3 separate regions of the Homo sapiens genome follow, and all the other regions are linked to region 2. The links come from fine-mapping of genetic effects on gene expression. A gene starts in region 2. Each other region holds a variant in brackets. All regions are shown on one strand. Distances are from middle to middle.

Region 1 (2,756 bases), 60 kb before region 2:
GTCTCTGGCAGGGTTAATGATTGCTCAGTGGAGGTGGAGATGGTGCCAAAGTCTGCTGGCCACATAGCTGCAGGCCGCAGAGGGTGCCCACCTGTGTGCCAGCGCCTGTCCGGCGCCTGCCTGCCGCCTCCGTGGCGAAGGGGACACAGGTAGGGACTATCCAGCTCATCGGGGGTCTCTGGGCCAGAGAAATGTGGGGGTTGGGGGGATCCCTAGAGCCAAGGCAAGCTTGGGGGTCTTTAAAAGTCTCCCCTGAAGCTGGGCAGGGGAAGTCACACGCTAGATGGGGCAGAGCCGGGTCAGGTCCCAGCCTGCTGTGAGGCCTGTTTCTTTGGTAAACATGGGATAATAATACCTCCTTCCCTGGGGGCTGATGGCCCCCTTCCCATCCAAGTCCTCAAGGGATGATTCTTCAGAGGATGGAAGGGAGGCAGGCACCCCAGGGAAACGAGGTAACTGGCCTGACCCCTTCATAGGATGCTCAGGGGTTGAGGACGGGGAAGCTGACCTGGGCTCTTACCCCAGCTGCTCGGTTCACATCCCAGCTCCACCCTGACCTTGGTGGGCTACTTAACTCTTCTGGGCCTCCGTTTCCTCATTTATCAAATGGGGATGAGAAGAGTTCCAGAAAGGGCCTGAAAAGCCCTGAGGCAAAGGTGAGCATGTGGCCTATGACCGAGCCCAGTGCCACCTCAGCCAGTGCTAGGAAGTGTCAGGCAGGGACTGACCCAGGCTGGCCCCAGCTCTGCCCAGTCCGGGCCTTGCACATCTCTCTGCCCTGGTAGAGGAGGTGGTGACCCAGCTGAGAGTCGGGGCCATGCTGCGTCACTCAGGCAGGCCTGTGCTGGGTTGGGCACCAGGCACAAGGCAGGGTCCCAGTGAGCACCGAGGTCCGGCAGATGGAAACAAGTCATGGCCCGTGTGTAGACCCCTTGATTTTTATCCTCACTCTGCTTCTCAGCAGGGGAAACTGAGGCCTGGAGAGGGGAGAGGGCTTGCCTGGGGTTGCACAACAAATATGTGAAATGCTGCCATCTGAACCCAGGGCTGTTTGAGTCTGTATGTGTCTGCTGGGCCAGGTGGCCTGGGCCATAGGCACTGGGAGGGCCCGTGGCGGGGAGCTGCGTGCTCAGGTCCCACATCCTTGCTCCGGGCACCCAGGCTCGGCTGGAGTCCGCTCTGTGGGTGCAGGCACGGCCTCCTGGATCAACGGAGCCCAGACCAAGGCTTGCCCAGGGACCCCTGGATTTGGAGGCAGCCTGGGTCTAACCTGCTGCCCCTGGCTCACCCATCTCTGGGCATCTATGAGCCTCGGTTTCCTTGGAATAATAGGATAGGATAATTCCTGCTTGGGAACAGCTGTGAGAAGTAAATGAAAAAGCAGAAGTGAAAGTGCATGGCGAGCTGGCCGTGTAGCGGTGGCGGTGCTGGGGGAG[C/T]TCTGTAGCATCGTGGCTGAGTGCACCCCGGGGGCTCCCCACACTGAAGGAGGACCCACCTCCCCACCCTGACCCTCCTGGAGGTCCTGGGCAGTCCGGGTATCCTCACTCCCAGTGGTTCCAAATTCTAGAAAATCTTGGCACCGTGGACTGCTCTGAGATGCGGCTGAAGCCTCCTCTCAGCCAAGGCTGAAGAGCTGGCACCTCCTGGGCCAGGTGGGACCAGTGAGGATTCCTGGAGACTACACATCTCATGGCGTGGGGGCCAGAGTCTCCCTGATTCTTCTCTGTGTCCTTTTTGGTCCTTCCCTAAGCACTTTCTTTTTGAGACGGATTCTCACTCTGTTGCCCAGGCTGGAGTGCAAGGCGCTATCTCGGCTCACTGCAACCTGTGCCTCCCTGGTTCAAACGATTCTCCTGCCTCAGCCTCCTGACTAGCTAGGATTACAGGTGCACGCCACCACGTCTGGCTAATTTTTTTTTGTGAGATGGAGTCTTGCTTGTCGCCCAGGCTCCAGTGCAGTGGTGCGATCTCAGTTCACCACAACCTCTGCCTCCTTGGTTCAAGTGATTCTCCTGCCTCAGCCTCCCGAATAGCTGGGATTACAGGTGTGCGCCACCATGCCTGGCTAATTTTTGTATTTTTAGTAGAGACAGGGTTTCACCATGTTGGTCAGGCTGGTCCAGGCATTTTTTGAGAGCAGGGAAACAACAGTAGTGGCCGGAGGGCTTGAGAACAAGGAAGCAGTAATTTCTGGAATATAGATAGTCCCCATTTTAAATTACTTTATTTTATTTTTATTTTTTGAGACAAGGTCTTGCTCTGTCGCCCAGGCTGGCGTGCAGTGGCGCGATCTCGGCTCACTGCAGCCTCAACCTTCTGGGCTCAAGTGATCCTCCCACTCTAGCCTCCCAAAGTGCTGGACTGTGTTTGCTCCTTTAAAAAATGAGAACTATTGGTATTGGCCTGGACTGCCACCACACCTAGCCAAGAGTTCTCTTTTTTTTTTTTTTTTTTGAGACAGAGTCTCGCTCTGTCACCCAAGCTGGAGTGCAGTAGCGGCATCTCGGCTCACTGCAAGCTCCGCTTCCCGGGTTCACGCCATTCTCCTGCCTCAGCCTTCCAAGTAGCTGGGACTACAGGCGCCCGCCACCACGCCTGGCTAATATTTTTTTTTTTTTTGGGGAACTTTTAGTAGAGACGGCGTTTCACCATGTTAGCCAGGATGGTCTCGATCTCCTGACCCCGACCCCGTAATCGGCCCGCCAAAGTGCTGGGATTACAGGCGTGAGTCACCGCGCCCGGTTAATAGTTCCCAT
Region 2 (2,745 bases):
GAGGGACTTCGTCAGGCATCTGAGTGTGTCTGAGAATCTCAGTCTGCTGCCCCTCGTCCCCTTCTCTCGTAGTGCCCTCAGAGCAGCGAAGTCTCCTGCTCGGGGGTGTGGGGGGAGAAGGAATCTAAAGGTGTTAGCCAGACCTGCTTCCAGAAACGGCCCTCAGACCATGCATACATACATACATAGGAGGGCAAGAATGGACGTTCATGGACGTGCAAACGTGGGCCAGTGTGGGTGGGAGTGGGCAGCACGCTAAGAGACAGAGTGTGTGTGTAAGAGGGAGTGTGTGCACAAGGGTGGCAGTCTACTCCAGGGTATCTGGGTACGCAAGGGACCCCATGAGCAGGGGTGAGCAGGCCAGGGCAGGGTGGCCCCGAGTGTGTTGTGATCAGGGAGTATTGTTGAGTTGATGTCCATGCTGTGATCCGCGATGGCTGGTTTGAGTGCGTAGCTGTGCCTGGGTGTGTACGCAAGGCTCCCACCCAGTACCCTGGGTGACAGGTGGCCGTGTGTATGAGTCTAATGGAATGACCAACAGCCATTGTGTGTGTGCGGTAGACCTGTGGCCTCACTCGAGGAAATGAGGCGCCCGTGCGTGAACGCGGTGTTGTGTGATCGCGCCCCGGAGTGTGTGCCACACTGGTTGTGTGACGGCGAGTGTGCTCAGTAGTGCGAGTGGAGCCAGTGGAGCGTTGAGCTCGCTCCGGGGAAGATGAATCAACGCGGGAGGACGCCCTCCCCCCAGTGGCGGGAAGCACCCCCTCCCGCGCGGCCATGCCGAACAAAGCCAGCGGGCGGCGGCAAGGCCGGGCGCGGGGCCGACCCCACAGCCAGGTCAGCCTGGCCCGCCGGGCCCCTCTGATGTTCGGCCCAGGGCTGCGGGACCCGCCCCCGCCCCGCCCCGCCCCGCCCCGCCCCGGCGAGGAGCCTGGAAACAGACACCCACCGCCCCCAGCCGCGCGCACACACCCGGGCTCATGCCGCGCGAGGTGTCCGAGCCCCGCCGCCGGGGGGCTTCGAGGACCCTGGACAGCGGCTCCGGGGCGGCAGCGAGCGGATGAAGGGGCTGCCGCCGCCCGCCCGGAAAGACAGCGGGTGTGGGCGCGGCGCTTACCAGGCAGTGCCGCTGCTCCGGCTCCTGGGCGAGATGCGCTCCGGCTCCCGCCGCCGCCGCCGCCGCCGCCCGAGCGGCCTCGGCTGCCTCCGGCCGGGCTGGCGGGAGGACCCGCAGACTCGGCGCCGCCGTCCCCAGCGCCGGCTCCGCGCTCCCGCCCCGCGCCCCGCCCCGGGCATGCGCAGTAGCCGCCCGGCCGCCTCGGAACCGCGAGGGGGCGGTGACCGCGGGGAAACCGCGGCCGGAGGGAGCGAGGGAGGGGCGCCCCTCGCTGGCCAACCCTAACTGCGGCCGCTGGGCTCCCGGGTTCCGCGCCGTCCTCGAGCGGGTTCCCACTTCACAGACAGGGAGACTGAGGGCCGGAGAGGCTGCCCCTTTGCTGCGAGCTTGCTGAGGGCGGGGCGCGCCGTCTAGCAGATCTTAGACCAGCCCCTCGAAAGCCCTCGCCTGGCTTGACCAAGGAGGGAACTGGGGCTCAGAGGGGGCAGTCGCCGGCCTGAGGACTCGAGGCGCCTGGATGGGGACCCAGGTCGGCGCGATCTCCCGGCTCCGCCAGCGAGGAAATTTCCCGCCTCCGCCCCCCCCACCCCCGGCCGCACTTCCGGCCTCCTCTTCCCCGCCCCCGGCCCTTTGTCTCGCCGCTGCCCACGCTCCAGCGAGTGGCGGGGACGCCGGAGGTAGTGGTGCGGGAGAGATGCCTTCCAGTCCCTGGCTGCGGCCTCCCCGGGGGCCCGCCCGCCCTCCCCCCTCCCCCTGGATACCCTCGAGCAAATCATTTCACCTCTCTGCACTTCAGTTTCTCGATCTGTAAAACGGGACTAACATTATGCACCTCACGGTGGTCTTGGAAGGGCAAAGTAGGTGTTCAGGGGTTTCCAGTGGTATCTGAATCACCAAGGACACAGAGACTCGCTGCCCACCCCCTCCACATTTCCCTGCAGAGAAGGAGTTCCCTTCCCCTTGACTTCCCAGAGGAGAAAAAATAATTCCGTAATTGCTCTAGATGTGACAAAACCCTCTCGCACCGGTACTATGAAGCCACCACCATCTATTAATCAATGGTAACAACCATTGGCAATGATGCTTATGTAGGGCCAGACACGGCGCTAAGATTCTGTTTACAGGTTTTATCTAATTTCAATTTCCAATCGCTTAGGAGCAAGTTAATATTAATGTATTATATCTCCATTTTTCAGATAAGAAAAGAGAAGCAGATAAGTAACTTGTTTGTGGTCACACATCTAGTTAGTAGTGGAGCTGGGATTACAAACCCATGCAGTCTAACTTTGAAACCTCACTTCTTATTCTTACATTTTACTCCCCTCTCTTACTTGGTGAACCGTAAGTCACCGTGATCCTTTAAAATATATATATATATATATATATATATATATATATATATATATATATATATATATATATATTTAAAATTCTAGGTGATAAATGAAGAAAATCCGTGGGACTGGCGTCTCCAGGCAGCACGCCAGGCAAGGAGAAAACCTCAGCGTGTCGGACCGGTTTCAGAACCACGGACAGCACCACACCAGGGCTGCTTCCTCACATTTCCGGTCCTGAAAATTGCTCATTCACTGCCCACAAGGCCATTTCGCTTCAGAGCTTACAAACCC
Region 3 (2,756 bases), 46 kb before region 2:
GTTCAAGACCAGCCTGGCCAACACGGTGAAACCCCGTCTCCACTAAAAATACAAAAATTAGCCCAGTGTGGTGGTGGGTGCCTGTAATCCCAGCTACTCGGGAGGCTGAGGCAGGAGAATCACTTGAACAATGGAGGCAGAGGTTGCAGTGAGCCGAGATGGCACCACTGCACTCCAGCCTGGGTGACAGAGTGAGACTCTGTCTCAAAACCAAACAAACAAAAAAGGCTGCGGTTATGGCTGGTGGAACAGGGGCTCAGTTCGTCAGCAGCTGTGAACTGGATGAGCTGTAATTGCTTTAATTTGGCTTTTCTCGAGGCCAGTGCTTATTTAGCTGCTAGAGAAAAAGAAAAAAAAAACCCTCATGGCAGTTAGAACAGAGTTTCTTCTGTAGGGCTGCCTGGCTTCACCCTGGCCTGGCATGGCCTCAGGTCCTGTTTATAATTTGGCATCTTATTGCCACGGAATGTCTATTCTTTCAGTCCTGCGAACTCTATTTTAACATTAACGCTGGTCGGTTATTGTGTGTCGCCTGTAAAAGAGAAGGGTATAATGAGGCATGATTGACCTCCCATCCCGCCATGGCTGGAAACTAAGTTTTGAAAGTTTTTCTGGGGTCTCCTGGGCCACAAGTGGGGCCGTTTAGTCAGTGGGAGGCATAGGATTTTATTTTTAGTTTACAGTAGCAAATGTGTTCCTTTGTTTGCTTTCAAGCTTGTTTAATTCATTTTTGGAAAAGTTAACATATTCAATCAGCACAAAAGAGTATACAGTAAAAAACTGGGCACAGTGGCACACGTCTGTAATCCCAGCTACTCAGGAGTTCAAGCCCAGAAGTTCAAGGCCAGCCTGGGCAACATAGTGAAACACTGTCTCAAAAGAAAAAAGTATACAGTAAAAAGCCCTGTCTTACAGAAAGATTATAGAGTAGCACAGTGAACATAGAGCATACAGACAACTTTCTAGACAGACAGCAAGAAACAAAACGTGTGGGGGCCCATCCTGCTCTCCTGCTTTCTGTGGAGTGACACATCAGTTGTCTTTGGGGATTCTTTTTTTTTTGAGACGGAGTCTCACTCTGTCTCCCAGGCTGGAATGCGATGGCGTGATCTCATCTCACTGCAACTTCCGCCTCCCGGATTCAAGCAATTCTCCTGCCTCAGACTCCCGAGTAGCTGGGATTACAGGCACCCACCACCATGCCCGGCTAACGTTTTTTGTATTTTGTTAGAGACAGGGTTTCACCATGTTGGTCGGGCTGGTCTTGAACTCCTGACCTCAGGTGATCCGCCCGCCTCGGCCTCCCGAAGTGCTGGGATTACAGGCGTGAGCCACCACGCCCAGCCTTGTCTTTGGGCATTGAAAG[G/C]GCCTTGATGTTTCAGGTCTCTCTGTGACAGTGAATCAAAGTCCCCCTTTTCTCCTTTTCCCTAACAAGGGACGGCTTGCAACATAAGATGATCAAAAAGACTGGCCCAGCAGGGTTTTCTAAGGTCTCTGTCTGGCTATCAATCAACAAGAGGATCCCAGAGTATGCAGCCCTCCCTAGACCCACCTGACTGGGGAACCCTTCTGCTGTGGCGCATCTCAGAGGGCCAGGGTTCCACGGAGCACAGTTTGGGAAAGGCTGCAAAGACAGCCACTAGATGTATCAGCAGGTGAACGAAGGACCCTGCCCACCCATAGTCTCTGGATGGTCCTGGACAAATTATGGTCCCTCTCCAGGGTCTTGATTGTGAAGGATACTATTAGTTTGAACACTTCTAACAGGCAGGTATAGATGGTGCAGTGGTTGAGAGAATGAACTCTGGACTCCAAAAGACCTGTGTTCCAAGCATGGTCTTGTCATTGACTCCCCGTGGCCTCAGGCAAGCCCCTTCGTATCTTGGTGCCTTAGCAGCCACCTCACAGTTGTGGGAATAACACAGCTGCACATCTAGTGCCTTGGAGCATTTCCTGGTGCATGGCAGGTCCTGGATTCAGGTTCAGACATCGTGGTCACCCCTACCCCACCTGGCCTCCCCCTTGGTTCCCCTGACCCTAGAGCATCTGGAAAATGGACAGAGGGTGATAGAGGCCCTGGGGGAGAACTACTAAGCAGCAGTGGTGGGTGGGCTCAGGTCAGACCCAGGCAGATGGGAGTCTGCCAAAAGGAGGGAGGCCTGAGTCCAGGAGCCATTCCCTGACCTCTTCCCTTAGGTCCCTGCGGATGTGATGGCCCAGCTATGGCTGTCCTGCTTCCTCCTTCCTGCCCTCGTGGTGTCTGGTAGGTGTCTCCCCTCCCCAGCCACGCAGCCCTAACCTAGAGACCCTTGGCAGGACCCTCCAGAAAGGAGGGGGATCCCTCATCAGCAAACACCAGCTCCTATGGGCCAGCCCTGTGCTTGGCTAAGCTGGGGAGGCCTGGGGAGGAATCCAGGCCTGGACGGGTGGCCTGGGTGGCCATAAGGACTAGTGTGTGCTCCCAGGGGAGCAGGTAGGGATCGGGTTTTGCAGGGGTGTCCCGATGTTCCAGCACACTGTGTCCCTACAGTGGCAGCCAACGTGGCCCCGAAGTTCCTAGCCAACATGACGTCAGTGATCCTGCCTGAGGACCTGCCTGTGGGTGAGTCCCGGTCCCTGTGTCTGCCCCATGTCAGGTCCTGACCCACAGGAAAGTCCTGGGGTGCCCTCTGGAGCCCCCACCATGCCTGCAACTCCATGGCTTATTGTGGGACAAAGAGGGACTGAAGGGAGCTCCTTTGATTCCAGAAGTTTGT

The links.
Region 1: its variant is fine-mapped to the expression of GPRIN1 in whole blood (TOPMed, PIP 0.92).
Region 3: its variant is fine-mapped to the expression of GPRIN1 in whole blood (INTERVAL, PIP above 0.99).

The regions. Positions count from the first base shown.
Region 1 is chr5:176,549,266-176,552,021 of GRCh38, forward strand. It overlaps CDHR2 (cadherin related family member 2), which reads left to right and starts at 77. Exons shown (of 32, transcript NM_017675.6): 1 at 77-149. RefSeq lists an enhancer at 349-1,282. The variant C/T (reference allele first, on the strand shown) is at 1,437.
Region 2 is chr5:176,608,882-176,611,626 of GRCh38, forward strand. GPRIN1 (G protein regulated inducer of neurite outgrowth 1) reads right to left here and starts at 1,275. Exons shown (of 2, transcript NM_052899.3): 1 at 1,118-1,275. RefSeq lists silencers at 856-915, 976-1,605, 2,507-2,745.
Region 3 is chr5:176,563,142-176,565,897 of GRCh38, forward strand. It overlaps CDHR2 (cadherin related family member 2), which reads left to right. Exons shown (of 32, transcript NM_017675.6): 2 at 2,197-2,263; 3 at 2,531-2,602. The coding sequence starts at 2,212. Among named protein-coding and RNA genes, the nearest start is that of CDHR2, 15 kb to the left of the region's middle. The variant G/C (reference allele first, on the strand shown) is at 1,367.